Linked DNA regions of Homo sapiens: region 2 is linked to region 1. Evidence: fine-mapped expression QTL. A gene starts in region 1. The other region holds a variant in brackets. All regions are shown on one strand. Distances are between the middles of the regions.

The links. PIP is the estimated chance that this variant, and not a neighbour inherited with it, causes the effect.
Region 2: its variant is the best candidate, but not a certain one, in a credible set for the expression of SDR42E2 in hippocampus (GTEx, PIP 0.79).

What each region holds. Positions count from the first base shown.
Region 1 is chr16:22,155,993-22,172,293 of GRCh38, reverse strand. SDR42E2 (short chain dehydrogenase/reductase family 42E, member 2) reads right to left here and starts at 9,788. Exons shown (of 13, transcript NM_001394319.2): 1 at 9,730-9,788; 2 at 6,657-6,747; 3 at 5,860-6,044; 4 at 5,295-5,390; 5 at 2,792-2,849; 6 at 1,343-1,461; 7 at 1-38. The coding sequence starts at 6,711. VWA3A (von Willebrand factor A domain containing 3A) reads right to left here. Exons shown (of 34, transcript NM_173615.5): 34 at 15,330-16,262.
Region 2 is chr16:22,133,132-22,149,432 of GRCh38, reverse strand. It overlaps VWA3A (von Willebrand factor A domain containing 3A), which reads right to left. Exons shown (of 34, transcript NM_173615.5): 21 at 14,995-15,065; 22 at 10,921-11,073; 23 at 9,189-9,279; 24 at 7,741-7,851; 25 at 6,668-6,765; 26 at 5,049-5,186; 27 at 3,089-3,197; 28 at 1,127-1,271. Among named protein-coding and RNA genes, the nearest start is that of SDR42E2, 21 kb to the left of the region's middle. The variant C/G (reference allele first, on the strand shown) is at 10,516.

The DNA of each region.
Region 1 (16,301 bases):
TCGGCGATGGCTTTGGTTCGGGAGTAGTGGTCTACGTGCTGCCAGAGGCCAGGAAAAACAGAACCACCAGAGAGGGTCAGCAATGCTGCTGGCAATGCCTGCCCAGCCCCAGGGCTGCACCTTCCCTGGGGACTCCCACTGGGATATGGCCAGGCCCTGAGCCCCATGGCCTTTCCTCTCCCCCTGGGTGGGAGAACAGTGCATCTCCTTCCAGAGCCACAGGAGCAGAGGAGCACTGGGTTCGGAGCAGTAACAATGACCAGGGGCAGCCGACTCAGGGAGGCTCCTGCCAGCCCCAGACACCTGTCCTTGCAAGGCTGATGCTGGACACATGCTGGATGAATTACCTACACATGGCTCTTTTGTGTTCACATGGCATTTTCACATCGGTTATCTTATTTCCTGCTCTGCACAACCCCATGGTGATAGTGTTACCATACTGGGTTGAAGAAACAGAGGCTTGTCCGGGTGCAGTGGCTCATGCCTGTAATTCCAGCACTTTGACAGCCGCAGGAGGGAGGATTGATTGAGCCCAGGAGTTCGAGACCAGCCTGGGCAACTCAATGAAACCTGTATCCACTAAAAATACAAAAATTAGCTGGGCGTGGTGGCGCACGACTGTAGTCCCAGCTACTGGGGAGGCTGAGGCAGGAGAATCACTTGAACCCGGGAGGCAGAGGTTGCAGTGAGCTGAGATCATGACACTGCACTCCAGTCTGAGTGACAGAGCAAAGCAAGACCTTGTCTCAAAACAAAACAAAACAAACAAACAACACGCCTGTAATCCCAGCACTTTGGGAGGCTGAGGCTGGCAGATCACGAGGTCAAGAGATGGAGACCATCCTGGCCAACATGGTAAACCCTGTCTCTACTAAAAATACAAAAATTGGCTGGTTGTGGTGGCATGCACCTATAATCCCAGCTACTTGGGAGGCTGAGGCAGGAGAATCTATTGAACCCAGGAGGCAGAGGTTGCAGTGAGCCAAAATCACGCCACTGCACTCCAGCCTGGGGACAGGGTGAGACTCTGTCTCAAAAAAACAAAAGAAAAGAAAAGAAAAAAAAACAGGCTCAAAGGGCTTAAGTGATTTGCTCAGGGTCAGGGTCACATGGGTAGAATGCGGCCAGGTTGAGGCTAAGGCCAGACCTGTCTGATTTCAATGCCCCTGCAGGTGTGACCAACTGAAACAGGAGAGTGCTGACGCCACCCAGTTTTGGGAGCCCCTTCCTGCTAGGACGTATCCTGAGTTGTGAAACCAACCCTGCTTCCACCCATCCCTCCCCTCTGAGCTGTGGGTCCCGGGCCCGCGGGTCCTGCCCACCTCTCCCGGAAGACAGGTACCTCGTCCAATGGGAAATATGGCACAGAGTCCTCATCGCCCTGCTCTATGGGCTTCCCTCCAAATGCAACATTGACAGTGCTGGTATAGATGAGCCTTGGAACCCGCCGGCGAACACAGACTGCAGCAGCAGGTGCACATAGCAACAAATAAACACACACACACATGCAAAGACACAGACACACACGGGACACAAGTGAGCATAGAGTCGGCTGAGGAGGTGTCATGCAGATCTCTACCAAGTTTTCAACACACAACTTGGACCCCCAGGACCCTCCCAGAATCTACAGCTGTTCAGGAGGGAAGAGTCTCCTGCCCTTAACTTAGGGTGCAGGTCAAGTTCCTGCTCTGTGGGCCCCTGGGAGCCAGGTCTGCTCCTTATTCTTTCTCATTGTGGCTTGGACCCCTGGGCTACCTTGCCAGAGACAGGTCAGAAGAAGGTCTCACTGGATGGAGACTTAGAAAAAGACACTCTAGAATCAAAGACATACGGGATAAGGCAGGACATGCCCAGGCAGCCCACACATGGGTCTGCGATTTTGGTGCTTTAGTAACTTTTTATTTATCTGTTTGTTTATTTATTTATTTATTTATTTATTGAGACGGAGTTTCACTCTTGTTGCCCAGGCTGGAGTGCAATGGCGCGATCTCGGCTCACCACAACTTCCCCCTCCCAGGTTCAAGCGATTCTCCTGCCTCAGCCTCCCGAGTAGCTGGGATTACAGGCATGCGCCACCACGCCCCGCTAATTTTGTAGTTTTAGTAGAGATGGGATCTCTTCGTGTTGGTCAGTCTAGCCCCGAACTCCCGACCTCAGGTGATCCACCTGCCTCGGCCTCCCAAAGTGCTGGGATTACAGGCGTGAGCCACCTCGCCCAGACTTATTTATTTATTTTTAAATTTTATTTATTTATTTATTTTGAGATGGAGTTTTGCTCTTGTTACCCAGGCTGTAGAGCAGTGGCACGATCTCGGCTCACTGCAACCTCTGCCTCTCAGATTCAAGCGATTCTCCTGCCTCAGCCTCCTAGGTAGGTGGGACTGCAGGCACCCGCCACCACGCCTGGCTAATTTTTTGTATTTTTAGTAGAGGTGGGGTTTCACCATTTTGGCCAGGCTGGTCTCGAACTCTTGACCTCAGGTGATCCACCCCTGTTGGTCTCCCAAAGTGCTGGGATTACAGGCATGAGCCACCACGCCCAGCCAGCTTCGGCAACTTTTCTTTTTCCAGTCCCTAAGCCCTGAGAGGTAACTCTGGTCCCCATGTTCCCAGACATGCTAAGGCCACACTGACACACCCATGCAGGGCCCTGGGGAGGTCTGCAGTGCACGAAGGATGCGCTGCCCACAGGCCCTCCCTTTGACCCTACACCCTGGGAGCCAGGCCTGCAGCAGGAGAAGGGAGAGAGGGGGAGAGGCACAGCAGGTCATACCCGGCTCTGAGCACCTACCATCAATCACTAGTTTGGTGCCTCCAACATTTATAGACTCAATCTGCTCTTTCTGCAGCTAAAAGACAAGACAGGTGAGAAAGTCATGGTGCTACCCATGCCTTCTTGCTGAGGCTGGAAGGCTGAGCTTGGGGTCAGGTGGGACAGGGCAGCAGGATGTTCAGTTCAGAGGCAGGGATCCCGAAGGCCCACCTGGAGTGTGGGTGCCTGGCTCTGCCACCATCTTCCTGGGTGGCCAGAGGAGGTTCTGCCCACACATCTGTCCCTCAGCAACCTCATTTGTAAAGTGAGGGCCAACCTCCTCCCCTGGGTGGTGGGCGGGACTCAATAAGACACTTGAGAGGACCTGGTACAGTGCCTGGCACAGAAGATGGGCTCAGAACCTGTTGGGTCATTTTCCTACTCTCAAAGCCTCAGTTTCCCTATCTGTAAGGTGAACATGGTAATATGGGCTGGGCCCTCACGAGGGAGCTGGGATGTGAAAAACAAAAATTAGGCCGCTGTGAGGGCTCCTGTGGGCCAGGAACAGGGCAAGAACTTCCTGATCCATGATCTCATTTAATTCTCATCACACCAGGAGATGAGCTCCATGCTTATTTTTAAGCTATATTTATTATTATTATTTTTTTGAGACCGAGTTTAGCTCTTGTTGTCCAAGGTGGAGTGTAGTGGTACAATCTTGGCTCACTGCAACCTCTGCCTCCCGGGTTTGAATGATTCTCCTGCCTCAGCCTCCCAAGTAGCTGGGATTACAGGCATGCACCACCATGCCTGGCTAATGTTTTTGTATTTAGTAGAGATGGGGTTTCATCATGTTGGTCAGGATGGTCTCAAACTCCTGACCTCAGGTGATCCACCTGCCTTGGCCTCTCCAAATGTTGGGGGTACAGGCATGAGCCACTGCTTCCAGCCTATATTTATTCTTTTAAAAATTTTTGGCCAGGTGTGGTATCTCATGCCTGTAATCCCAGCACTTTGGGAGGCCGAGGTGGGCGGATCACTTCAGGTCAGGAGTTTGAGACCAGCTTGAGCAACATGGCAAAACCCCATCTCTACTAAAAATACAAAAATTAGCCAGGTGTGGTGGCGTGCAACTGTAATCTTAGCTACTCAGGAGTCTGAGGCAGAAGAATCGCTTGAGCCTGGGAGGTGGAGGCTGCAGTGAGCTGAGATCATATCACTGCACACCAGCCTTGGTGACTGAGCGAAACTCCGTCTCAAAAATAAATAAATAAATAAAAATAATAAAATTTACTTTTATTATTTTTAAATAGAGATAGGGGTCTCACTATGTTGCCCAGGCTGGTCTCGAACTCCTGGGCTCAAGCAATCCTCCCACCTTGGCCTCCCAAAGTGCTGGGATTACAGGTGTGAGCCACCACACCTGGCTCTATATTTATTCTTGTTGTGGCTGTTTTTGTTTCATAGGCAACACGATCAAGGTTAAAAAGAATTCAAACAGTAAAATGGGTGTATAGTGAAAAAGAAGGTTCCCTCCTACTCCTGATTCCAAATCTTCCTTTTCCCTCCCCAGAGGCAGCCACTGTTAAATTTCCGGTGTTTCTCGAGATAATCTATTCTTATTAATATCAGCATATAAGCATGTGTGACTATAGAAATAAATAGTTTCTTTAGCTTTTTTTGGAAACAAACAGGAGAATGCCAAACACTGCTTTGCACCTTGGAAACTATTTTTTTAATCTGCACACTTTGAGTTACCTCTTTCTTTTGAATGGCTGCATAGAATTTGACTGTAAAACACAATTTATTTAAATAGTCCTCAACTGATAGGTTATTTCTGGTGTTTTGTTATTAAAAACAATGCTGCAAATACACAAATGAGTGTAATTTCTGAGGCAACGGGTATACATATGTTTTGGTGGATACTATTACATTGCTCTCTGAAGAGGTTGTGATATTACCAATAGTAATATCCTCACTTTCCAGATGATGAAAGAGGATCAAAGAGGTTAAATAAACTTGCCCTAGATAACACAGTTATAAAATGGCAGAAATGGGGCCGGGTGCGGTGGCTCCTGCCTGTAATCCCAGCACTTTGGGAGGCCAAGGCGGGCAGATCACCTGAGGTCAGGAGCTTGAGACCAGCCTGGCCAACATGGTGAAACCCTGTTTCTACTAAAAATACAAAAATTAGCTGGGCGTGTTGGTGGCACCTGTAATCCCAGCTACTCAGGAGGCTGAGGCAGAAGAACCACTTGAACCTGGGAGATGGAAGTTGCAGTGAGCTGAGATTGTGCCACTGCACTCCAGCCTGGGTGACAGAGTGAGACTCAGTCTCAAAAAAAAAAAAAAAAAAAAAAAAAAAAAAAAAAAAAATGGCAGAACTGGTATTTGGTGTCATGGATGCAGGATGCAGGGTGGGAGTAGCCCAAGTCCCTCCTATAATAGGTGAAGCATGATAGGGAATGCATGGGTGTGAGGGCAGAGCCAGGACTGGAACCCCACTCTGTCTAACTCCAGGTGTTGTGTGTGAGGAGCCCACCTTCTCAGCCCCGGACATTCCATAGGAAGCCACGTGGAAGACACAGTCCACCCCTTCGAAGGCACGGTACAGGGCTTCTTCATCTCGGACATCAGCCTGCACCAGAGGAAGAAGAGATGAGGGCAGGGGGTTCAAGTCCAAGGCAAGAGATAACACCTCTGCACCTTGCCTGGTCTCAGAACTGGCCCCCTGACCCAGCCCAGGCCAAGCCTCTGTAGCATCAGGAAAGGCTGGTGGGGCAGGATTCACTAAATGATTCTACAGGGCACCGTGAGCAACATCCCGTGCTCATTCATCACGCTCTGTAGGTGACAGGGGCTGTGCTAGGTTTATGTGCACTGTCTCATCAACTCCCAATGAGACCCTGTGAAGTAGGTGTTGGTTACTATTGTCCCCTTTCTGTGACCATAGCTACCCAGCTGGTAGCACCAGAGCCAGAGCTATAGCTCAAACAGTCTGGCTTCAAACAGTGTGCCCCTAAACTCCACACCACAGGTTTCACATCAAACACTGTCCCCTGACCATCACCACTGCCCCAGTCTATTAAGACCCTTGTTCCTTGTACCTGGATGAACTTGGTTTCCGGGGACAGTTCCCACTGGGGTCTGCGGCGGTCAAGCAGAATGACGGAAGTGCCGCTCTTGGCTAGGTGGGATCCCAGGCTGAAGCCCAGGTAGCCTCCTCCTCCAGTCACTAGAACCTTCTGCCTGGCAGCCTTTGTAGGTTTGGCTTGAGTCTTCTGCTGCGGCGCTGGTGTTGGGGTTGTTGTTGACTCACTGGGTCTGGGCCCAGTCCCAGACCCCTGTCTGAGCCCAGGCCCTAGCTCTGGCTCAGGTGTAGACCCAGCTCCTGCCCCAGGTACTGATCCAGCTCCCGGCCCAGGTACCGATCCAGCTCCCGGCCCAGGTACCGATCCAGCTCCCGGCCCAGGTACAGACCCAGCTCCTGGCCCAGCTCCTACACCAGGTCCCAACCCACCTCCTAGACCAGGTCCCGACCCAGCTCCTGGTCCAGGTACAGACCCAGCTCCTGGCCCAGGTACGGACCCAGCTCCTGGCCCAGGTACGGACCCAGCTCCTGGCCCAGGTACGGACCTAGCTCCTAGACCAGGTACGGACCCAGCTCCTGGCCCAGGTACAGACCCAGCTCCTGGCCCAGGCCCTAGACCTGGTCCAGTCCCTGAAATAGCACCAGGCCTCGGAACAGTACCAGAACCCGCCTGAGGTCCTGGAATAGCTTTGGGCCCCAGTCCAGGCCCTGGAATGGCACCAGGCTTTGGTGCAGGCCTTGACTCAGACCCTGAGCCAGACCTTGGACCTGAGACCTCTCCACAGGCCTGGCAGACAGGGCAGCTCTTCTCACCCTGGCCTGCAGCTTTGCAGGCCTCTAGGGAGGAGCGTGGGGGGTTGGACTTCATCCTCTACTGAGCCATGCAGACCCAGAAACCGACCACCTGTGGGAAAAAAAATAGAAGAAAGAATGCTCTAGAATCGTTTCAAGTCACATAAATTATTAGACCTCTAGGACTGAGGGGAACTCCAGGTGGAAATTAGAAATTCTCTGAGTTCCCAGGGAACCTGCCCCTTTCAGAATCTCAAGAATCTCCAGTGTGGGCCCGGCGTGGTGGTTCACGTCTGTAATCCCAGCAGTTTGGGAGGCTGAGGTGGGCGGATCACTTGAGGCCAGGAGTTGGAGATCAGCATGGCCAACATGGTGAAATCCTGTCTCTACTGAAAATACAAAAATTAGCCGGGTGTAGTGGGGCACACCTGTAATCCCAGCTACTCAGGAGACTGAAGCACAAGAATTGCTTGAACCTGGAAGGCGGAGGTTGCAGTGAGCTGAGATGGTGCCACTGCACCCCAGTCTGGGCAATAGAATGAGACTCAGTCTCAAAAACAAACAAACAAACAAACAAACAAAAAACTCCAGTGTGGCTGCTGTCCTCTGCACAGAGTCAGAGACAAGGCAGCCAAGACTTGGATTTTAGAGCTAAGAAAATTGAGGCCCAAAGTCACGCTGTGTAACTGAGGTTGACATTAAGCATTCCTGACTTATCTACCAGTTCCTTAAAATTCCAGTTTCCATGGAGTACCAAAGGAAGACAGGGCAAATCATCCAGCGGGAACCTCACCAGACTGGGAGGTGGCTGCTTTCTGACTGGGGAGATTGGGAGAGCCTTCTGGAAGAGGAGGAAGAGAAAGAGGAGGAGGAGGAGAATCCACATGGATCCAAAAGGACTCTGCACCCTGGAAACTTGCACATGACTCCAAGTGCTGTGCCTGTCTCCACCCTGATGCCTGACGCCTCTGGTCCTCCAAGGTCCGACAGTAGTGTGGGTGGCTGGTACCACACGTTCTGCCCAATCCCTCTGCAGGCTTTAGGGTCTGGTCTATGGGCCTAGGGGGACAGCACTGAGGATCCTGTTCTTTGCAGCCTCAGACTACTTTCTTTTCTCTGTCGCCCAGGCTGGAGTGCAGTGGCACAATCATAGCTCACTGCAGCTTCAAACTTCTGTGCTCAAGCGATCCTTCCATCTTAGCCCCACAAGCAGCTGGGAATACAGGTGCATGCTACCATGCCTGGTGAATTTTTGCATTTTTAGTAGAGATGGGGTTTCACCATGTTGGCCAGGCTGGTCTTGAACTCCTGACCTCAAGTGATCCTCCCACCTCAGCCTCCCAAAGTGCTGGGATTACAGGTGTGAGCCACCGCATCCAGCTCCCTAGATCTTTTTTTAATTTTTGAGACAGAGTCTCACTCTGTTGCCCAGGCTAGTAGTGAACTCCTGGAACTCAAGCAATTCTCCTGCCTTGGCCTCCCAAAGTGTTGAGATTACAGGCGTTAGCCACTGTGCCCAGCCCTCAGTCTAGACTCAGGGCAAGCCAGGCTGTCAGTCACTGTCACCATCGTCCATCCCCCCACCCCCCTCCCGACCTCCCTCTCCACCTGAGGATGAGGCTGGATGACCAGGGCTAGGTGATCATTAACCGTAACAACAGCAACCATGTGCTAGGGACCTCTGTGCGCCAGGCCCTACATATACAGATAGGTGCATCTCTGCCCTGCATGGCATATACTGGCTGCATGAAAGAACGGGTATTTGTTGAGTGACTGGACTGATGAGCCCCATGTTTTTTTGCTGGTGGTGGTCACAGGGCAGGGACTCTGGCAGCTAGAGGGGCTGTATTTTTAATTTCCTCTGTTACTGCCCTGCTCACCAAATGTCTGGGTGAGGAATACAGTCCTGCCCCGTATAAGCACGAACACTCATGGCTTTATTTATTTATTTAGAGAAGGAGTCTCACTCTGTTGCTCAGGCTGGAGTGCAGTGGTGTGATCTTGGCTCACTGCAACCTCCGCCTGCCTTGTTCAAGCAATTCTCCTCCCTCAGCCTCCCGAGTAGCTGGGACTACAGGCACGCGCCACCACACCTGGTTAATTTTTGTATTTTTAGTAGAGACGGGGGTTTCACCATTTTGGCCAGGCTGGTCTCAAACTCCTGGTCTCAAGTGATCTGCCACCCTCAGCCTCCCAAAGTGCTGGGATTACAGGCGTGAGCCACTGCGCCCAGCCCACTCATGGATTTAATGAGAGAGACTGCAAACCATCATGAGCAGGGGCCTAAATCCCCGAGAGGGAGAGGAGAGGATGCAGCCCCACAGCGAGCCCTCCTCCTGTACTCAGGCCCAGAGGACTCTGTTCTGGGGAAGGGTCTATGGGACCAGAGCTGACTTTCTACCCTAAGAGGATGCCTTTTGTGGCAAAGGCTGGACTCAGCCTTGGATACTCACTTATTGGGGTGTGCCCTTGGGTAAGGGCCTTAAAACCTCACTGTACCTTAGTACCCACAACCGCGAATGGACCCAAATATTTCTGGCTGCTCTGGCTCCTCACAGGGTGGTCATGAGAAAACAGACGCCAGAATGCCTTGCGAGGCTAGATTGCAAAGCTCCAGGAGGATTTCATTCCCTGGAGTGTCCCAGCACCTAGAACAGTGCCTGGCGCAAAGCAGGCGGCCAGCAAATGCTGCTGGGTGAACAAAATCTCTGGGGCGTGTTCGGGATCTGGCTGTGCTATGGTCGCGCGCCAGACCCACCCTGGACATGGCTTCACTCATTCTTTTGGAAGTTCAGTGAAGTACAGGCTATGGTTCCCATTACCCAGAGGTGGAAACTGAGGCCCAGAGAACATGAGGAAACTTTGATGGAGTCACAGACAGTGTCTCCGCCGGAATCCAGGTCGATGGGGACCCCAAAAGCGGGTTTGGTGGAAGGAACTGGCAAAAGGGTGGGGAGCATCAGGGACTGACCCTGAGAGCGCTGGGCTCGCGGGCAGCTCCAGGGTGGGGGTCCCCTCCCCTCTTGGCTCCCTCACCCTCCCTGTCCCTCCAGCACCTGCGTCCCTCCCTGGCCCGCGTCCGGGCTTCGCTCACCTGGCCCGGGCTCCCGCGGCGCTGCGTGCTCCCCGCGCTGCGCCAGTCTCCGCGCCGCCAGGGCCACCGGGCCACCTCCTTCTCCCGAGGAGGGCAGAAAGGGGCGGGGCGGGGCGGGACGAGGCATCCGGACCGCCCCCCGCCCGCTCTTCTGCCCGCCCACTCCCGGCGCGGGAGCACCTGCATTCTCTCAGGTGGAGACCCGCGGGCTCTCATAGAGGGGAAACTGAAGCCAGTAGGGCTGGGATGGGCGAAATGGTCCACGCTTCTTGTGGGAAAAGACGCAAAGGCCCTGCGTGCCGGGCTCTGTCCTGCAGGCCAAGTCGTCCTAGAACCCCAAGAAAAAGGGTTTCATCTATATGTAGGAGCAGAATTGCTGGGTCATATGATTACTCTGTGTTTAGAGAAGAACCGCCAAACTGTTTTCTAAAGTAGCTGTACCATTTTACAATCCTACCAGCAGTGTATAGGGTTCCAATACTTCCGCATCCTTACCAACACTTATTATTATATCTATGTTTAAAATTTTAACTATTCTACTGGGTGTGAAGTGGTGTCTCATTGTGGTTTCATTTGAATTTCCTGATAGCTAATGCTGCTGAACATGTTTTCATGTGCTCATTGGCACATTAATGTGTTTTCTTTGGAGAAGTGTCTGTTCAAATCCTTTGCTCATTTTCAGTTGAGTTATTTGTTGACTTTTAAGAGTTCTTTGTATATTCTGGATACAAATCCTTCATCAGATAAATGATTTGCAAATATTTAAACAAAAACAAAAAACCAAAAAAGTTCTTCCATCATCCATCCTTCCACCTATCCATCCATCCTTCCATCCATCCATCCTTCCACCTATCCATCCAACCTTCCATCCATCCATCCTTCCACCTATCCATCCAACCTTCCATCCATCCAGCCTTCCACCTATCCATCCAGCCTTCCACCTATCCATCTAACCTTCCATCATCCATCCTTCCACTTATCCATCCAATCTTCTCCCTGACCATCCTTCTGCTTATCCATCCAACCTTCCATCCATCTGTACTTCTACCTGTCCATCCAGCTTTCCATCCATCTTTATTTCAACCTGTCCTTTCCATCCATCTGTATTTCAACCTATCCATACAACCTGTCATCCATCCATTCTTAAACCTGTCCATCCAACCTTCCATCATCTATCCTTCCACCTATCCATCCAAATTTCCATCCATCCAACCTTCCACCCATCTAATTCATTACATATATCTTTCTTTCCTTGCTTCTACCCATCTATCTACTCTCCCTGTCTTGCAATCTTCCACTTATCTCTGTTGATTTATGCATCAATCACATCATTCTATTTTGATGGGTGCTTCTTCAGTGCTGGATCATATCATCCTTTGAAAACTCATGTTCAGCTGGGTGTGGTGGCTCATGCCTGTAATCCCAGCACTTTGGGAGGCTGGGGTGGGCAGATCACTTGAGCCTAGGCATTTAAGACCAGCCTGGACAACATAGTGAGAGCCCATCTCTACAAAAAATTACAAAAAAAAATTAGCCGGGCATGGTGGCATGTGCCTGTAGTCCCAGCTACTTGGGAGGCTGAGGCAGGAGGATCACCTGAGCCTGGGAGGTGGAGGCTATGGTGGGCTGTGATTGTGCCACTGCAGTCTCATGCTGGAGAGCTCAGGCAATGGAGTGAGATCCTGTCTCAGTAAAAGAAAACTCATGTTCAAGTGGCAGTATTGGAGGGTCAGGCATGTGCCCAAGAGCTCACAACTGCTGTAATGGAGCCACAGGGGCTGAGAGCAGGAAGGGCTGGTCACTTTGCTCTGAAAAGGGCAACTGAAAAAGCCTCCACCCATACAACACCCTCTGTGGGCATAGGTGTGGGGAAGAGAAAAACAAAATCTTAGTCTGCATGTTCTATGAGCCAGATGGTAAGAGATCTTGTTTAATCCTCACAACTCTGTTTTAGCTCAATTTTAGAGACAGGGAAACAGGTTCAGAAAAGGGGCTCCAAATGTGGTGGGGAAAAGCCATAGGGTCAGTCCTGGATTTAAATCTTGGCTTTGCCACTTTCTTGCTGTGTGTCTTTGAGCAGCTACGAGGCTCAGTTTCCTCATCTGTAAACTGCAAATGATGTGCACTTTATAGTTGTCATGCTGTGAGGTTTATGGCTAACATGCTCTATGCAAAATGTTGAGCATGGTGCTGGCTCAATCAGTGTGCAAACAATGGTAGCTGTTCTCCTCATTACATGGGAGGTTGGGATTTGAACCTAGGTCCTGTCCTTCCCCACTTCATAAGCCATGTGTTTGGTTCAACCTTCCATTCACAAAGGCCAGCCTATTCTTCTCCCACCAACAGGGCCAGAGAACTCATATTCCCCAGTACCAGCTGCTGATATTGTCTTGCAAAGAGAAGCATAACTTACATCTGTGACGGGTTGAATTGTGTTCTTCACAAAATTCATATGTGGAAGTCCCAATCCCATGTACTTAACCCTAACTCTCCAAATAAAGTCACTGCAGATGTAATGAGTTAAGGTCATAGTGGAGTAGGGTGGGCCCCTACTCCAGTATGATTGGTGTTCTTATAAAGAGGGGAAATTTGAACAGAGACATGCACATAGGCAGAGCTTCATGTGAAGGCTGTAGTTATGCTGCCCAAAGCCAAGGAACTACCAGAATGGAGGAGAGAAGTCTGGAACGGATCCTTCCCAGTGTCTTCAGAGGGAGCATGGCCCTGAGGGCATCTTAATCTTGAATTTCCAGCTTCCAGAACAATAAGAGAATACATTTCTGTTGTTTCATCCACTCAATTTGTGGTACTTTGTTATGACAGCTCTAGCAAATGAATACAACCACCACAGGCCCTTTTCTCTGTATTTACAGACGTGACCCAAAATGGCAGCTGTGCAAGATGGACCAGACTGAGATTTACCATGGCAGGGGTTGTGGTCACCACTGCCTTCCTGGGCCCAGCACAGAGCCTGGCCAAAGCAGGGTCTCATCAAGCCTTAGCAAGTGAGTTTCGTTTTTTTTGAGACAGAGTCTCTGTTGCCAGGCTGGAGTGCAGTGGCACGATCTCAGCTCACTGCAACCTCCACCTCCCGGGTTCAAGCGATTCTCCTGCCTCAGCCTCCGAGTAGCTGGGACTACAGGCGTCCACCACCATGCCTGGCTAATTTTTGTATTTTTGGTAGAGACAGGGTTTCTCCATGTTGGCCAGGCTGGTCTCGAACTCCTGGCCTTGAGCCATCTGCCTGCCTTGGTCTCCCTAAGTGCTGGGATTACAGGCGTGAACCACCGCACCTGGCCACAACTGAGTGTTTTTAAACAACTTGATGAATTTTTACTTATGTATAGCTCAATGTAACTCCTACCTTTATCAATATATAGAATATTTTCATCACACCAGATGTCCCCTTTGTGTCCCCCATCCCACAGGGTAACTAGTATTTTGACTTCAATCACCAATAAGGAGTTTGGCTGGTTCTTGAACTTCATATAAATGACTTTATACAGTATGTACTCCTTTGTGTCTGGTTTCTTTTGCCCAATATTATGAGACTGATGCATCTTGTTGAATATAGCTGTATAGATCATTCTTTTTTGGGGGTGCAGGCAGGGTCTCACTCTATTGCCAAGGCTGGAGTATAGTGGCATGATCAAGGCTCACTGCAGCCTCAACCTCTCCTGGGCTCAGGTGATCCTTGCACCTCAGCCTCCTGAGTAGCTGGCACTACAGGCATATGCCTCCAAGCCTGGCTAATTTTTGTATTTTTTTGTAAAGATGGGTTCTCACCATGTTACCTAGGCTAGTCTCAAACTCCTGGGCTCAAGCCATCTACCTGCCTTGGTCTCCCAAAGTGCTGGGATTTCAGGTGTGAGCCACCACATGAGCCGTTCATTCTTTTTAAATTGATGCATAATATTTCACTGTAAAATGTATCAGATTTTATTTGCACATTCTGCCACTGATGGACATTGGGTAGTTTCCAATTTTGAGCTCTAATGAATAAGGCTGCTGGAAAAATTCTTATATGTCTTTTGTCTAACATATGCACTCATTACCCTTGGAGTGGAATTACTAGATCATAGAGTAGGCATATGTTTTACTTTAGTAGAAATTGCCAAATAGTCTTCCAAAGTTATTGAGTCAAATTATACGTCCCTACCCCAACCCCTACCCTAATTGGAATATGAGTGTTCCAACTGTTCCACATCTTGATATTGTAGTTCTTTTTTTGTTCTGTTTTTAGAGACAGGGTCTCATTCTGTTGCCCAGGCTGGAGTGCAATGGCCCAGTCTCAGCTCATTGCAATCTCCACCTCCTGGGTTCAAGCGATTCTCATGCCTCAGCCTCCTGAGTAGCTGGAATTACAGGTGTGCACCACCATGCCCAGCTAATTTTTGTTGTTTTTAGTAGAGACGGGGTTTCACTATGTTGGCCATGCTGGTCTCAAACTTCTGACTTCATGTGATCCGCCCACCTTGGCCTCCCAAAGTGCTGGGATTACAGGTGTGAGCCACCATGCCTGGCCATCTTGTCTTTTTGTTTGTTTGTTTTTAAGAGACAGGGTCTTACTCTGTTGCCCACGCTGGAGTGCAATGGCACAATCATAGCTAACTGTAGTCTCAAACTCCTGGGCTCAACTGATCCTCATGCCTCAGCCTCCTGAGCAGCTAAAACTACATGCATTGGGCCACCATGCCTGGCTAATTTCTTTTAAATTTTTGGAGACATGGGGTCTTGCTATGTTGCCCAGGCTGGTGTTGAACCCCTGGCATCAAGCAATCCTCCCATCTCAGCCTCGCAAAGTGTTGGGATTAGAGGCATGAGCCACTGTGCCCAACCCCAGTCTTTTTTATTTTAGCCATTCTAGTGGGAGTGTAGTGGCATCTCACTGTGGTTTTAATTTACACTTCCCTGGCAGGTAAGGCTGTTGAGCACCTTTTCATGTACCTATTGTCCATTTTAAAAATTGGATGGGCTGGACGCGGTGACTCATGCCTGTAATCCCAGCACTTTGGGAGTCTCAGTCGGGCCGGATCACCTGAGGTCAGGCGTTTGAGACCAGCCTGGCCAACATGGTGAAACCCCGTCTCCACTAAAAATAAAAATAAAAAAAATTAGCTGGGCGTGGTGGCAGGCACCTGTAATCCCAGCTACCCTACTCGGGAGGCTGAGGCAGGAGAATCGCTTGAACCTGGGAGGCGGAGGTTGCAGTGAGCTGAGATCGTGCCACTGCACTCCAGCCTGGGCAAAAAGAGTGAGACTGTGCCTAAAAAAAAAAAAAAAATTGAGATGGGCCAGGCACAGTGGCTCACGCCTATAATCCCAGCACTTTGAGAGGCCAAGGCGGGCAGATCCCCTGAGATCAGGAGTTCAAGACCAGCCTGGCCAACATAATGAAACCCTGTCTCTACTAAAACAAAAATTAGCCAGACGTGGTGGCAGGCCCCTGTAGTCCCAGCTGCTCAGGAGGCTGAGGCAGGAGAATTGCTTGAACCCAGGAGGCGGAGGTTGCAGTGAGCCGAGATTGCACCACTGCACTCCAGCCTGGGCAACAGAGCGAGACTCTGTTTCCAAAAAAAACAAAAAAATGGATGTTTATCTTTTTCTTATTGAAATTCTTTATTATGGTATGAGTCTTTTAATAAAGTTTTATGTCACTAAAAATTTATGCACACACACACACGCCAATGATCACTTCAAACAGTTAAAGTCATGTTGATCCTATTAGTAGAATAAAATTAATTGTTTTTAATTTTAGAAAATGAACCCAGATGAGCAGCCTTCACTTCAGTTTGGTTGGGCAGGGATGGAGGGTGGTGCTGAGGCTCACTTGTTTCTTCTTCCCCCAGGATGGGCTGACTGTGACTCTGCATTAGCCTCTTATGAACCAGGGTGGAGACCACCCCATCAGCTGCTTTCCAGAGCTAGGCTCTCACAGCTCAGCCGCCTGCTCACTGTTCACCATGTGTCTCCTATGTGGCAGCTTCTGGGGACCTGCAGATCCTGGGACACCAGTCTCATCCCGAAGGAGCTCACCATCAAGGAGAAGAGTTAGATCAGCGAGCAAGGTGGCGTGACATAGAGTGCTGAGTGCGAGAGGTCTGCGTGGTCAGGATGCTGCAAGAGAAAGACTGGAGGCCCCTCGCTCTAGATAGGTCCCAGGGAGCTGATGTCATTTGAGCTGTGCCTTGATGGATGAGCAGGAGTCTCCAGGCAGAGGGGGCAAGAAGCACCGTTCAGGCAGGGGGTTGGTTTGCAAGAAGCACCACCATTTAGGCAGGGGGTTGGTTTAGGGCTTCCCAGAGAGGGACAATCTAGTGGCTGGAGAGTAGAGTGCGCTGCGGGACAGGGCTGGAGAGTTAGATTAAGACCCGGGAATGGCCCCTCACACAAAAGACAAAGTCTTTCCTTCCTCAGCTTCCAGAGAGTCCTGGTACCAGGAATCATGTTTCCTGCAGGTCACAGCATTTCATCCCATCCTGCCCTCGGGGCTGAGATTTGCTCAGTGAGTGGTCCTTTGCAGGATGACTTTTCTGTTTAGAGGAATCATTATTTTTTAACCAAAGTTATTA
Region 2 (16,301 bases), 23 kb after region 1:
ATCTCTACGAAAAAGATTTTTAAAAAATTAGCCAGGCATGGTGGTGTGCGCCTGTAGTCCAAGCTACTTGGGAGGCTGAGGTGGGAGATCACTTGAGCCCAGGACGTTGAGGCTGCAGCGAGCTATGATCACACCACTGCACTCCAGCCTGGGAGACAGAGTGAGACCCCGTCTCAAAACAAACAAGCAAACAAACAACCCAAACAATCCTATCTCAGCCAGTGACTGGTTACCCGATCTTCAGCAAGTGTCTTAACCTCTTGAAGTCCTGGCTTCCTTTTCTGAAAAATGGGGGCCGATAACAGCAACACCTCACGGGCTCATTGTGAGAGTTGATGAAATGATGCGTGTAAAGCATCTGGTGCACAGAAAGTGCTCAATAAATGTATACTCTGATTAAGGCAAGAACGAGGCCTAGTCTACGATGAGAGTCCCCTGGGGTCCCCTTCGGGTCAACCCTTCTGGATGGGGAAAATAAACAACTTCCTCCACTCAAAAATCAAGTTCACAAAAATTAAAAAAATTAAATCATTAAATAATTTAAAACAAATCAAGTTCAGCTGAAAGCCATACTTCAAGGCCACATGGTAGTTCCTTTGCTGTGCTTGCAATTGTCCCTAGGCCTGAAATTAATTTTTAAAAATTGCGTTCCTTTTTTTTTTGAGACAGGGTCTTACTCTGTTGCCCAGGCAGGAGTGCACTGGTGCAATCATAGCTCACTGCAGCCTCAACCTCCTGGGCTCAAGTGATCCTCCCTTCTCAGCCTCCCAAGTAGTTGGGGCTACAGGTGCACACCACCATACCCAGCTAATTTTTAAATGTTTTGAAGAGATGGGATGACACTTTGTTGCTGAGACTGGTCTTGAATTCCTGAGCTCAAGTGATCCTCCTGCCTTGGCCCCCAAAATTGCTGGGATTACAGGTATGAGCCACCATACCCGGCCTCTAAAAACTGATTTCCTTCACAGCAGAGCAGAATACAGTGCTCTTTCCTACTCAAACGCGTTACTCAGAAGAGCATCTCAGAAACTCCAGGCCTGTTGGCACTGAGAAGAGGGGGCGTGCTTGGCCAGGGAAGCCCCAGGAACTGCCCCTTTGATCTTCCTGATCAGCCCTCGCCTCCTACCTGTCACAGCACTTCCGCAGCTGTTCCCAAATCAGCAAAACCAGCTCTGTCTTCACCTGCTGCAGGTAGGGGCCCATGGACCCTGACGTGTCCAGCAATATGCATACTTTGCTCTCCAAAACGGTGCCAAACAGTCGGCGGCTCCCTGCTCCGAGACAGGTGGGGAAGAGGCAGGGAGGGAGTGAGGGGTCCCTCCTCCTGGGTGGTTTCCCTCACTCTATCTATCAAGTATAAAGTCTTGTGACACCTGTTGCCTGCCTGATCATTGATTGGATGTCACCCCACTGAGAGACGGCTTTTGTGGTGCTGTGGGAGGGGTCGATTGTCCAAGGACAGACCTGGTCAGTGGTTTGGGCTTTGGGAGATCGAGATTTCAGCTCTGGCTTTGTCTGTGATGAGTTGCACAAGCGGTTATAACCTCCTGGGCTTGAATTTCCTTATCCTTAAAGTTAAGTGATTGGATTAAATAGTACCATGACATTGTTTTAAAATATTAGATGGTGTTTGGGTGTGTACTGGTATGTGAGCTGGGGGATTCATACTACAAAAGAAATCGCTGGATCTCTGGTTTTATGTCACCGTTCCCAGGGGTAATGTGAACCGAGGGTGGAGAGAGGCTCACGCCTTCTCTGTCCCAGCTCAGCCTCTGACCTGACAACTGTACCTGAAGCAGCAGTCATCATGACGCCCCTGTCCATGGACTGTCTATACCAGGTCCTACTGCAGAGGACTGGACCTAATGAATTTACACAGGACCCTGAGTGGCACGTACAAAGCCACCTGTAGGATCTCTATATAGGACTCCCTTCCTCCCTCCTCCTGATGCCCCAGAAACCCTCCAGGCCCCATAGCCCGAATCCCCTCCTGTCCAGTTCTAGCTGTCTGCCTGTCTTCTTGGGCTTGATGCTTCCAGACCGTCTCTTAATCCACAGCCCAACCCTGTCCATTCACCTCTCCTGGAGGGGACTTGGTGCTCTCTGTAAAGAGGTACACAGTAGCTCACACCTATAACCCCAGGACTTTGGGAGGCTGAGGCAGGAGGATAGCTTGAGCCTAGGAGTTCGGGGCCAGCCTGTGCAACATAGAAAGACTCTGTATCTAAAAAAAATAAATAAAGTAAGCTGGGCATGGTGGCACGTGCCTGTAGTCTCAGGTCCTTGCAAGGTTGAGGTGGGAGGATTGCTTGTGCCCAGTTCAAGGCTGCAGTAAGCCATGACTGCACCACTGGACTCCAGACTAGGTGACAGAGAAAGACCCTGTTTCTAAAACAAAACAAAACAGAGGGTTTCTGCTCTGTCAGTTCCCCTTACCATCTGCATCTCCAGGGGCTGTTTTGCTGGGGCGCAGTCAATATTAAAGCAAACCTTTTGACAGTGAGCCCCTTGTCACTTGCAGGAAGGCAAGGTGTGGCAGGTGGCCTTGCAGAGCAGGCTGGGATGCGTGTGAGCTCCCGCTGGGGCTCTTTGGCCCATGTTCCACCTCCCTGTTATCCAGCCCCTTGCCTGTCCTCTGAACCCACTGTCATTTTTTTTTTTTTTGGATAGAGTTTCACTCTTGTTGCCCAGGATGGAGTGCAGTGGCGCGATCTCAGCTCACTGCAACCTCTGCGATTTTCCTGCCTCAGCCTCCTGAGTAGCTGGGATTACAGGTGCCCGCCACCATGCCTGGCTAATTTTTTGTATTTTTAGTAGAGACGGGTTTCATCATGTTGGCCAGGCTGGTTTCGAACTACTGACTGGTGATCCACCCACCTTGGCCTCCCAAAGTGCAGAGATTACAGGCATGAGCCACCACGCCCGGCCTCCCAGTGTCATGTTGTATGTGGATGATGTTCCTGGCCTAATCCTCTGATCTGCAGTTCTTGAAGGCCTGGCTTTGGAAGGACTGACACTGGGGTCCCTGGGGCTAGCCTTCTACATCCCCTCATGCTCCTCCACCCTTCAGGGCAGTGGGCAGGCTCACCGGACAGCAGCCACTGCAGCCTCTGGACATAGCGCCTTAACACCTTCTCCAAGTGCCTGATGTACACCTCCATCTCCCTGGGCGTCCACTGGATGTGTCTCACCACTCCCTGGGTTAAGGCAAGCAGAGGCAAGCACCCACCCCATCAGTCATTTCTTCATATCCCCATCACCCCCTAAAATTGTTTATTCCATTGTGGTTAACAATTCTCAAAATATTTGTTGGCTGGGCACGGTGGCTCATGCCTGTAATCCCAGCGCTTTGGGAGGCCGAGGCAGGAGGATCGCTTGAGCCCAAGAGATCAAGACCAGCCTGGGTAACATAGGGAGACCTCATCTCTACCAAAAACAGAAAATTTAGCTGGTGTGGTGGCATGTGTCTGTGGTCCCAGCTGCTTGGGGGAGGCTGAGGTGGGAGGATTGCCTGAGCCCAGGGAGGTAGAGGCTGCAGTGAGCTGTGATTGCACCACTGCACTCCTGCCTGGATGACAGAGCAAGATCCTGTCTCAACAAACAAACAAAAACCCACAAAAAACAACCATCTGTTAAGTGTATTTTTTTTTTTTGTTTAAAGCCTTTTTTTCTTCTATTAAACTAGTGGATTTATGGTTCTACAAAGGAGTAGGGAATTAAGATTTTTTTTTTGGTAAATGCAGTTGCTATATTAATAAAAATCATAATAATTTCTGATTTTTTTTTTTTTTTGAGACAGAGTCTCAGTCGGTTGCCCAGGCTGTGTAGTGCAGTGGTGCGATCTCGGCTCACTTCAGCCTCTGCCTCCCGGGTTCAAGCGATTTTCCTGCCTCAGCCTCCTGAGTAGCTGGGATTACAGGTGCACAGCACCATGCCTGGCTAATTTTTGTATTTACAGTAGAGACGGGGTTTCACTGTGTTGGCCAGGGTGGTCTCGAACTCCTGACCTCAGGTGATCCGCCCGCCTTGGCCTCCCAAAGTTCTGGGACTACAGGCATGAGCCACTGCGTCTGGCCAATAATCTCTAAATTTTAAAATAGAAAACTCTAAATGGTGGGGTAAGAAGTTCATAAATTTTGAACTGAAAGATGACTTCAGGTGGAGAGGGGCAACATGCTAGAATGACCCTATATTCCTCTAGTGAATAATTTTGAATTTTGTGGCTATTTTTAGTTTCCCCTAATCTTGACAATGTAGGATAAGAGGGCAAGGAGAGAAATGATCAGATTTTCATTCTGTACTAAATTTACTTGTTCCAGTGTCAAAGCAATAAAAAATCACCCCAAAATTAGAAAATAGAAAAGAGAACCCTTCACTTCCTATCACAACCCCTATTTGCTGCCATAACAGAACCATCATCAGTATTGGGGTACAGCATTCTTATGGGTGAACACTTCAGCCACGGCCCAATCTTCTCAGCAATTGCTATTTTTCCTATCTTTTCCTTTTTATGTTTTAAGAGTCAGGCTCCTGCCCCATGGCCCAGGCTGGAGTGCAGTGGCGTGATCACGGCTCACTGCAGCCTTGAACTCCATGACTCAACTAATCCTCCCGCCTCAGCCTCCCAAGTAGCTCGGACTACAGGCACACAGCTGCACCTGGCTAATCTAATTTTTTTTCAGAGATGGGGTCTTGCTATGTTGCCCAGGCTGGTCTCAAACTCTTGGGCTCAAGCAATCCTCCCACCTCAGCCTCCTAAAGCACTTGGTATTACAGGCAGGAGTCACCGCACCTGGCCTCGGCAATTGTTTATAATTCTTATTCCAATGAGCTCATCTAACCCTGGAATGGGATCTTAGGCCCTCTGGGAAGTTGGCTTTTCTTCCAACAGGATTTTGCATCTCCTATTTGGTGAGGGGAGTCCCACTTTGGGGAGGAGGGCAGTTCCTACAAGCAGAAATAGAGGCCACAGTGCCCTACACTGCTCTCTGCCATTTGCAGCTGAGTTGGGGGAGAAAAAAAAGACGATGATGAAAATTGTGACTTACATGGATCTCAACGCTGGGGAAGATGCTGCAGTGTTTGGCGGATGCTGACCTCTGTCCTGACTTTTGATGAGTGCAGTTGGGACCCATGCATCTGGAAATCTCCAGCTTCAATTTTTTGAGCCCATATTTTGCCACCCACTTTAGAATAAAGGAAAGAACTATTATCTTAGGCAATTCAGACTCAACTGAATGATCATCTGACTGGTCTATGAGAACCTCATGTTTGAAACCTGTATGATGTTTGAAATGTGGGATTCCCAGGTCCTCACAGAGCATCCATCCCATGCAGATTCCTTCCCTGGCTTTGGGGGAGAAATGCACAAGAAATATGGGGGTGCAGGCTGGACGCGGTGGCTCATGCCTGTAATCCTAGCACTTTGGGAGGCTGACAGCGGTGGTTCTCAAACTCCTGAGGTCAGGAGTTTGAGAACAGCCTGGCCAACATGGTGAAACCCCATCTCTACTAAATACAAAAAATTAGCCAGGAGTGGTGGTGCATGCCTGTAATCCCAGCTACTTGGGAGGCTGAGGCAGGAGAATCGTTTGAACCCAGGAGGCGGAGGTTGCAGTGATAGTGCTACTGCACTCCAGCCTGGGCAACAAGAGTGAAACTCTGTCTCAAAAAAAAAAAAAAAGAAAGAAAGAAAGAAAGAAATAGTGGGGGTGAAGAACAAAATCTATCGCGCACCTCCCAGACCCTAGTCTAGTGGACACTGTTACTTCCCTAACATCCATTTCAACCCCACCTACAACATTTTTTAGTATATGTGCTGCTGAAGTGAGCACCCCACCTACAATATTTGAGTGGAAAGCCCTGATTGGTCTAAAGCTTAGACTCTAAGCCAATTAGGATAATCTCAGTCTCCTTGTCACAATGAGGGACACAAGAATGGGCAGGCTCAAAGCAGCCAGGGATGGCATCTGCCATCGGCACAATCAGAACCATGCTCAGGCTTTTATTGAATAGCTGTGGGACAACTATCCCCTTATGCACAAGAAGTGGGATTTCTGTTGATTTCACTTTAAAGAATCTTCACATCAATCTTATTTGACTGGCACAATTGTCCTTATTTTACAAAGGCAGTGAGATTGAGTATAGCTAGGTGATTTGCCCAAGGTCACCCAGGCAGGAAGTGGCAGACCTAGATTTTGAATTTAGGTCTATTTAACCCTTATCCCATCTGCCACAGTAAGCAATTGTTCTTATCAGGTTTGTCCTTTTTTTTTTTTTTTTTGAGACAGAGTCTTGCTCTGTCACCCAGGCTGGAGTGCAGCGGCACAATCTTGGCTCACTGCAACCTCCACCTCCCAGTTTCAAGTGATTCTCATGATGTAGCCTCCCAAGTAGCTGGGAGTACAGGTGCGTGCCACTGCACCTGGCTAATTTTTGTACTTTTAGTAGAGATGGGGTTTCACCATGTTGGCCAGGTGGTCTCGAACTCCTGACCTCAAGTGATCCACCCACCTCAGCCTCCCAAAGTGCTGGGATTACAGGTGTGAGTCACTGTGCCTGGCTTGTTCTCATTTCTGATTATGCCCCCCCATCCTAGAAGTAATGGTTGGTGGACAGAACTACTCTATTGCTTAATGGGCATGTGCTAGTATGGGTGACTTAATACCTCTTGGCTTGAGCAAACTGTATCCTTTCTGGGTAAGTCAATAGAAGAGCTAGTCCTTCTCAAGCCCCTTCCTTGAGGGTACTTCTTGTACACTGAGCCTAGAAGAAGCAGAGTGAGGTCATTGCTATAGTTTGGATGGTTGAGCCCCTGCAAACCTCATGAAATGTGATCCCCAGTGTTGGAGATGGGGCTTAATGGGAGGTGTTTGGGTCATGGGAACGGATCCCTCATGAATAGATCAATGCTCTCTCTGGTGAGAGGGTGGGGAGCGAGTAAGTTCTCCCTCTATTACTTGCCGCAAGGGCTGGCTGTTAAATAAAAGCCTGGCACCTCCCCATTTTCTTGTTTCCTCTCTCTCCATGTGATCTCTGCACATGCCAGCTCCCCAGCGCCTTCCACCATGAGTGGAAGCAGCCTGAAGCTCTCACCAGATGCCCAAACTTCCAGCCAGCATAAGCCTGAGCTAAAAAAACCTATTTTCTTCATAAATCACCTAGCCTTGGGTATTCCAAGCACAAATGAACTAAGATGGTCACCCTGTGTACCTCTCTTCCCTCCCCCTGAATCTCCCACTGCTCCCTTTTTCATGTCAATTTCTCTGTCAATCAAGTCAGTTGTAAAAGTCCTTAGTGCAATTTGCTGAGAGGTAGAAAGGGAGCTGTTGGGTGGATGGGGAAAGGCTGTTTGGGACCTCCTGCCTAGCAATGAATTGTTCTTGGGATCTGCACCATTTCACAGCAGTGAATCAGGCTGGCCTAGGGGAATCATCTCCATCCCTTGCCATCTGCCTTAGAGCTAAGGAAACTGCCCCTAGTGGACAGAGCTGGAGTGCCCAAGAATCTCAGGAGGTCTCATCTTCAATATTGACTTCTCTCATTCCCTGGTTGTTGTCAAAACTTTGCATGTCCATTTCCCAGGGCTGGGAGAACTGAGTTGAGTACGGCTTGCTCCAGAGGCACCAGTGCCTAGGTCCTGGGACAGCAGGAGGGGTCTCCTTCCCACGGTACCTGCTGCCCTTACAGCTCCCCCAGGGCCAGGGGGCTGTCCAGACACCTGTATAGCCTCTAACTTACCCACGTCATTCCCTTTCTCTGTGTAGAACAGTAAAAGAGATGTCTCTGCTTCCCTTGACTTGGTCTTCCTCCTCAGTTCCATCATCCCTTCTTTCGTTGGCTGGGCCGCAGCTGAGGAACATTTGGCTTGTTGGCTGGAGCAGCTGCATGCATTCTTGCAATACAGCTGTCCAGCTTGGCTTAGAGACACTCAAGTTCAGCTATACTCCACCCCAGGAAATGGGGCTCCAAGATGGCTTCAAGGCACCCTGTGTCCTCCCCCGCCAGGTCTCTGGCTTTGCTTGGATCAGAAATAGCTATAGCTACCATTTACTGAGTCCAGATCTTTCCCTGGCATTGTGCTAAGTGCTTTGAGTATGCTGCCTTGCTTCATCCTCACAGTCCCCCAGTTTACAGATAAGGTAAGTGGGAATCCACCAGTAAGAGGCAGGGCATGATTCTACCTGGTCCTGCTGACTCCAGAACTCTGCTCTGAGCCACTCTGCCATACCTTTGACATTAGAAATAAAATACATGGTCTTAGGTTCTACGAGCTGAGTACTTTCATTAAGATTGTGAAGGCCTGTTACCACTAGTGGCACATGATCCTTACCCCCCTGAGCCTCAGTTCCTTTGTCAGTACAATAGGAAGCTGATAGAATACAGATGCAAAGGATTGATCATTATAGGCTTTAAATGGGACAATCTTAGCAGATGGGCTGGCACATGATCAAGACTCAGGATCATTGATCGTTTTAGTTACTATCATTATTGCTATTATGATTATTATTTTAAGAGATGTGGCCAGGCGTGGTGGCTCACGCCTGTAATCTCAGCACTTTGGGAGGCCGAGGCAGATGAATTGCCTGAGCTCAGGAGTTGTAGACCAGCCTGGGCAACATGGTGAAACCCCGTCTCTACTAAAAATACAAAAAGTTAGCCAGGCGTGGTGGCACACACCTGTAGTCCCAGCTATTCAGGAGGCTGAGGCACAAGAATCGCTTGAACCCAGGAGGTGGAGGTTGCAGTGAGCTGAGATGACACGACTGCACTCCAGCCTGGGTGACAGAGCGAGACTCTGTCTCAAAAAAAAAAAAAAAAAAAAGTAGAGACAGGGTCTTGCTCTGTCACTGAGGTTAGAGTGCAGTGGTGCAATGATAGCTCACTGCAGCTTCGAACTTCTGGGCTCAAGCAATCCTCCCAACTCAGCCTCTGAGTACTTGGGGGACTTCAGGCATGCACCACCACATCTGGCTCCTTTTTTGTTTGGTAGAGATGGAGTCTTGCTATGTTGTCAAGGCTTGTCTTGAACTCCTGACCTCAAGTGATCCTTCCACCTCAGCCTCCAAAAGTGCTGGGATTATAGGCACGAGCTTCCACACGTGGCTCTAGTTACTATCATTATTAACCCATGCCTCAGCCGTGACCGTGACATCCCTCCACCCTGCCTGACCGTGATGGTGCCTTACCTGGTGAGATGCCAACTCTGCTACTGAGTGGACGCCATTTCAGAGATTTCAGCGGGGGGCTCTTCTCTCTGTCAGGGTCATCTTTAATGCTCTAGAAAACAGGCAATCTTTCCCATCAGAGGAGTGTTCCCTGTGTCACGCAGGATCCCAGTTACCCTGACCTCAATTTGTCAATCAGGAACTTTTGTAGGGAGGAGCCTAAGGGAGGGGACTCCTCAGACAGGTTTGGCCCCTCTCCTGCAGCAGATTCAGAAGGGACTCTGGGTTTTGAGGTGAAAAAGTATGGGTGTGTACATGTGTGTAGGAGTGTATATGTATGTGTGTGCATGTGCATATGTGTATGTATGCATGTGTGTGTGTGTGAGATGAGAGTGAGAGAGCTGCTAGTGAGAGAGCTATGGGGGTTTGCCAGAATTTTTTTCATCAGTCACCTGCCCCTCTTCCTAATGGACTGGGATGTCTGGGCCTCCAGCATGACAACAGAAATTTAGGTAACTTCTGTGCCTTATCAGGCACCTCAGTTTTTTTTTGTTTGTTTGTTTTCTTTTTTGAGATGGAGTCTGGCTCTGTCACCCAGGCTGGAGTGCAGCGGCGTGATCTCGACTCACTGCAAACTCTGCCTCCCAGGTTCAAGCAATTCTCCCTGTCTCAGCTTCCCGAGTAGCTGGGATTACAGGCACCCGCCACCACACCCGGCTAATTTCTGTATTTTTAATAGAGAGGGGGTTTCACCATGTTGGCCAGGATGGTCTTGATCTCTTGACCTCATGATCCGCCTGCCTTGGCCTCCCAAAGTGCTGGGATTACAGGTGTGAGCCACTGCACCTGGCCCAGACACCTCAGTTTTAAGGGAAGAGTTCCTTCATTCTCAGCCACGACTGGAGTGTGGCGGTCATTAAACAGTCACTGTCTGGGGAGCACCCGGCCTGGTTTCAGGAGGCACTCAGGAAGCACTGAAGGCTCAAGAGGCAGCCTCTGAGGAGGGGGCGAAGTGCCTGAGCTGGCTCCTGAAACCTGGCAGAGTTCCCCGAACGAGGGCAGAACCCGGCTGCACAGGCTCTCCTGGAAAGGCAGCCCTTTGGCTGGAAATCTGCTACCTACTGTCTGGGATGGATTTCCACATTCTGAACATGGGCTGTGCTCACAGGGTCTGAGTCATGCAATGCTGAGGGACTCACAGGTGTCCCTCCCAGTCTGCTCACAAGCACAGGTGCCTCTGGGGTCTGTCCTCTAGAGCCCTTCTGATTGCCAAGGTGGGTGGGTATTTTATGGAGGACAGAATTGATAGGCTGTGAATGAGGATAAGCCCCTAGCAGGCTCAGCCCAC[C/G]CTCAGGCTCCTATCAGCCTCTGCAAAGTCTTGGGTGGCAGCGGGAAGAGCCCTTAGAGACCATAATTCCTTTGCCCCCGAGAGACTCTCCAGGATAAGCCATCAGATGAAACAGGTGGGTGTCAATTCTGTGGCATCCTCAGTACCAGGGTAGGGAAAAGGCTGGGATAGGCTGACAGAGCCAAGGGTGGGTTGGGGGAGGACAGAGGACCCCGAGAGCTGAGGAGCCGGCCCCCCGCGGGAGATTTTCCCCCTGGAGGCCTGGGCAAGAGGCACCCACAGGACACTCACCACTGAAGCACCCACCCCCATCCCTGCTGGCCCCAGCCATTTTAAGACCCAGGAAAGACCAGAAGACAAACAGGAAACCAAATCTTCTGCGTGTTATTAGGAGGGGAGTCAAACCATTCTGGCCCCCAGGGGGACGGTGGGCCTGGGAGGGCAGAGCTTCTTGGGCTGACTTCTTAGCTGAAGTGTCTTTGGTTTTTCTTTCGGGAGGGCTGAACTTCCCAGTACTTTTCCTGAATGGTTCTTCAGGGAGGCCATGAGGAAGGCACACTGCAGTGGGATTGGGAGGGTCAGTGGCACCCCCAGCCACTGTGGACACACACACACACACACACACAGCAGGAGGGACTGTATCCACTGGAACCTCTGATGTCCCCTGGACTCCTCTTTTTGTCCCTAGAAAGCCACCTGGGGCTGAAAGTGCTATGGACCAATCCTATGAACAACAGTAAGACCAGGTATGGGGGCCTGGGAGGCACAGGCTCTGGGCTAGTGAATACTTGGGGGTCTCCAACCCTCATGCCAACAAGTCACATCAGCTATGCCGATAGGGTAGGTGTGTCGTCTCCCCATTTTACAGATGAGGAAACCAAAGCTCTGAAGCTGTCATCACAGAGTTAACAAGAATTCTGGACAAAAATCTAGTTATCATGAAGCCCTGATCAGGCTGCACATAGCCCCACTTCTTTGTAACCTAAAGTCACATAGCACCAGATCCTGGCTGTTTGCATCCCCGTTGTTCCTCTAGATAGGATTTCTGACTTCAGAATCACAAGGCTTTTGTTTAAGAATTGCTTAAGATGTTTTTCAGACCCGAATTCCAGCAAAGCAGCTGATGCCAACAGTTTGAAGACCCCCAGAGGAACAGGAACAGCATGAGAACACAGCTTCTTCATCTCCCCTGCCCATGACTCCAGCCTGCACTCAACTAGTCAGTGATCTCCATACTTCAGCCCACTGCAAAACCCTTAAAAACCTTAACACCAAATTTGAGGTTCCCTCCCATCTCCTTGTTTGGCAGTCCTATAATTAAACTTCTTTTCTCTGCTGCAACCCAGTGTCTCTGTGCATTGACTTGCCATGCATATCTGGCCACAGATCTATTACAGTTACAGCTCTGTGAGCTTAAGGTTCTCATCTAAGACCACCTTATCAGTGTGTAGAGAAACTTCAATTCAAACCAGGTGGGTCTGTTTCCAAAGCCAGCACCCTTCCATTATGAGACACTGTGGCCTCCACTTGTGGGCCAGTCAGCTTGCCGCATGCCAGGGCTGATTCCAGATGCTGGCAGACTAATGGTGTAATACTCAATGCCTTTTGCCTACGATTTTCTCAACAGCCTGACTGGTTCCCCAGCAATTATTCTCAATCAAAGCTCCAGAAGACACCATTCAAATGTAAATAAGCATCCTCTGGAAAGGTGAATTATGCGGTCATTGCCCATTAACACCATATGTATCAGTTTATCTGATGAGGGAATGGGACTATGTGCACCTGAGGGTAAGGGATATTTATTTATTTACTTACTTATTTATTTATTTATTTATTTATTTATTTAGAGACAGAGTCTTACTCTGTTGCCAGGCTGGAGTGCAGTGGCATGATCTTGGCTCACTGCAATCTCTGCCTCCCGGGTTCAAGGATTCTCCTGCCTCAGCCTCCCAAATAGCTGGGATTACAGGTGCGCACCACCACACCCAGCTAATTTTGCGTGTGTGTGTGTGTGTGTGTGTGCGTGTGTGTGTGTGTGTGTGTATTTTTAGTAGAGACGGGGTTTCACCATGTTAGCCAGGATGGTCTCGATCTCCTGACCTTGTGATCTGCCTGCCTCAGCCTCCCAAAATGCTGGGATTACAGGCATGAGCCACTACGCCCAGCTGGGAAGAGATATTTTAAAAGCACCAAAAGGGTCCCTTTTGGGGAAGACAGCACAGGCACGCAGGGGGAGCCACAGATCTGCAGATCCAGTGGCCACAGAGGAATAGAAGATGGAGACGTGGCCCTGCCCTCCCAGGAGTCCACAATCCAGTCTGGGAAGTGAGTCCTTCTGCAAGTGGTGGAGTCCAGGAGTCTCCTTCACAGGCTCCTCCACTCCACTGCCTCGACCACAGCCTTGCTAAGTGCCCTCTGTCCGTCACTGTGGCTTGAACTGCCCTAAATCTCCATCTCCAGCCATGTCTTTTCCCACCTGCCTGTAGGGTACCCTCACTTGTTATCTCACAGGCTCCACAAACTCACCCTTGTCCCAGACCCGCCTTCCCTGCACCTCTCCGTCCTTCCATGGGCTCTTCCTCCTGTTTTCTACATCTTGGTCAATGGCCTCACTGTCTACTGGGTGCTCCAGTGAGGAGCGTGGGGGTCAGTTTGTATGTTTTCTCTTTCACACTGCCCGTTCAATCACTTGCAAGTCCGGGGAATTCTTCCTTAGATAGTCATTGCTCCTCACGGGATCTGGCTCCTAGCTACCTCTCTCATTGTATCTTGTCCTGCTCAACTCCTCTGAGGAAGTAACATTTTAGTGTGTCTAAACTAACTAATAGGCTAGGTGTGGTGGCTCCCGCCTGTGATCCCAGCACTTTGGGAGGCTGAGGCAGGCAGATCAGCTGAGATCAGGAGTTTGAGACCAGCCTGGCCAACATGGTGAAACCCCATCTCTACTAAAAAACACAAAAATCAGTCAGGCGTGGTGGCGGGTGCCTGTAGCCCCAGCTACTTGGGAGGCTGAGACAGGAGAATTGCTTGAACTCAGGAGGCAGAGGTTGCAGTGAGCTGAGATTGCACAATGGCACTCCAGCCTGGGCGACAGAGTGAGACTCTGTCTCAAAAAAACCCCCAAAAAACAAAAAACAAAACCCTAACTAATGATAAGGAGCAAGCCATGAAAGGTCTGGGATGGGAAGGACAGAGGAAACAGCAGGTGCAAAGGCCCTGAGCTTAGGAATGGGTTTAGCAATAACCTTGACGTGTTTAAGGAACTCAAAGGAGGCCAGAATGTGCAGCACACAGACCTAAAACCAATGGCTTCTAGGAGACACTCATTTCTTCTGAAGCCTTGGGTCTCAGTGGATTAGGACATGAAGAGGGAAGCTGACATGGGATGAGGTGTGTCCCCCAAAAGGATATGTTGAAGTCTGAACCCTCAGGACCTGTGCATGTGGCCTTACATAGAAATAGGGTCTTTGCAGATGTAATTAAGATACAAATTACGGTGAGGCATATTGGAGTAGCGCAGGTCCTTAATCTAATCTGATTGTTGTCCATGTAAGAGGAGAAGGGATGCACCTGGAGGGAAAACAGCCATGTAAAGACAGAGGCAGAGACTGGAGTTATGCTCCTCAAGCCAAGGAATGCCAGAGATTGCTGGTGACAAGGACTGCCTCCTTGACCGAACTTTAGCCGGCTCCTCTAAGCCATCTTCTCAATGAGGCCTTGACCTTGGCCTGCCGAACTCAGTTTTGGCAAAGAATTTTGCTAAGTCAGTTTAGTGAGACCTGTCCCATCCTTGATATCCAAGCAAGTTCTTCATCTCCCATCTGAGATACCTTTTTTAAAAAAATTATTTTAAAAAAATTCTTTAACAGAGATAGGGTTTCACCGTGTTGCTGAGGCTGGTCTCAAACTCCTGGGCTCCAGCGATCAGCCCACCTTGGCCTCCCAAAGTGCTGGGATTACAGGTGGGATCCACTGTGCCCAGTTCTATTTTTGACATCTAAGCCTTTGGTCTGCCTTTAGCAAGAGCCCTGTTTAACAAGAATCCTTTTATCTATCCTATCTATCCAGTTCTCTTAGTAATTTTTCCATCCACTGACTGCTCATTGGCTATAAATCTCCAGCTATCTTTGCTATTATTTAGAGTTGAGTTCAGTCTCTCTCCCCTATTGCAATAGTCTTAAGTAAAGTCTTCCTTGCCATTTTAAAAGAGCAACCAGTGCAATTAAAAACAAACAAACAAACAAACAAACAAACAAACACCAATTGCCACCAGAAGCCAGGGAGGGGCAAGGAAAGATTCTACCCAAAGCCTTCAGAGGGAGCCTGGCCCTGCTGACACCTTGATTTCAGACTTCCAGCCTCTGGAAGTGAGAGAATCAATGGTTGTTATTTTAAGCCACCCAGTTTGTGGCAGTTATGGTAGCCCCAGGAAATGAATACAAAAGGCAGTGCAGTCATTGGCCCATGCCCAGGGCATACCTTTTGGGAGTAGTTGAGAGCCTTTTCCATCTCAGACATGATGGAGTTGATGTCATCGCTCTCATAAATGCCTGGAAACAAAGCACATCGTGAGCAAGGTGAGACAGGGTGTGGATCCTGGCAAGCGTCCCCATCATCTGGATACTAGAAAGCCACCTGGAGGTGACTTGAGGGCTGGGAATGGTGGCTTACTCCTGTAATCCCAGCATTTGGGAGGCTGAGGAGGGAGGATTGCTTGAGGTTGGGAGTTCAACACCAGCCTGGGCAATATAGTGAGACCCCTTCTCTATAAAAAAAAATTTAAAAAATTAACTGGGCGTGGTGGTGGACACCTGTAGTCCCAGCTGCTCAGGAGGCTGGGGTGGGAGGATTGCTTGAATCCAGGAGGTTGAGGCTGCAGTGAAGTATGATGGCACCACTGCACTCCAGCCTGGGTGACAGAGGGAGACCCCGTCTCTAAAAAAAATGTTGCTTTTTGTACCATGTACAACTATCTTGCCAACCATGTGCTGTGAACACACCACCCTTTGAAAAACAATCTAAGGGATGTTCAGGGTGCCTTCTAGCTCTGACATTCTATGACATTCTAAATTATATATTTTTTAATTTTTAATTTTTTTGTAAAGGCAGAATCTTGCTATGTTGCCCAGGATGGTCTTGAACTGGATTCAAGCAATCCGCTCGCCTCAACTTTCCAAAGTGCTGAGATTACAGGTGTGAGCCACCACCTGACTCATAATATACTTTTAGAGTTTTACTTCTTCTTCTTCTTTTTTTTTTTTTTTTTTTGAGACAGAGTTTTGCTCTGTCACCCAGGCTGGAGTGTAGTGGTGTGATCTCTGCTCACTGCAACCTCCGCTTCCTGGGTTCAAGCGATTTTCTTGTACCTCAGCCTCCCGAGTAGCTGGGACTACAGGTATGTGCCATCACACCCGGCTAATTTTTTTGTATTTTTAATAGAGTTTCACCATGTTGGCCAGGCTGTTCTCAAAGTCCTGATCTCAAGCGATCTGACCACGTTGGCCTCTCAAACTGCTGGGATTGTGGGTATGAGCCACTGTTCCTGGCCTACTTCTTTTAAGTTAAAAAAATTGCAGTAAAATATACATAACATCAAACTTACTATTTCAATCACTTAAAATTGTACAATTCAGTGGCATTAAGTGCATTCACATTGTTGTTCAACCATCACTGCTATCTATCTTCAGAGGAACAGTTTTACATTTTAAAATGTGATTTTCACAAGCTGCTTTTCTGGAATACATCTGTGGTCTAAGGGAGCTATGCTGGTGCTGAGACAACTGTTT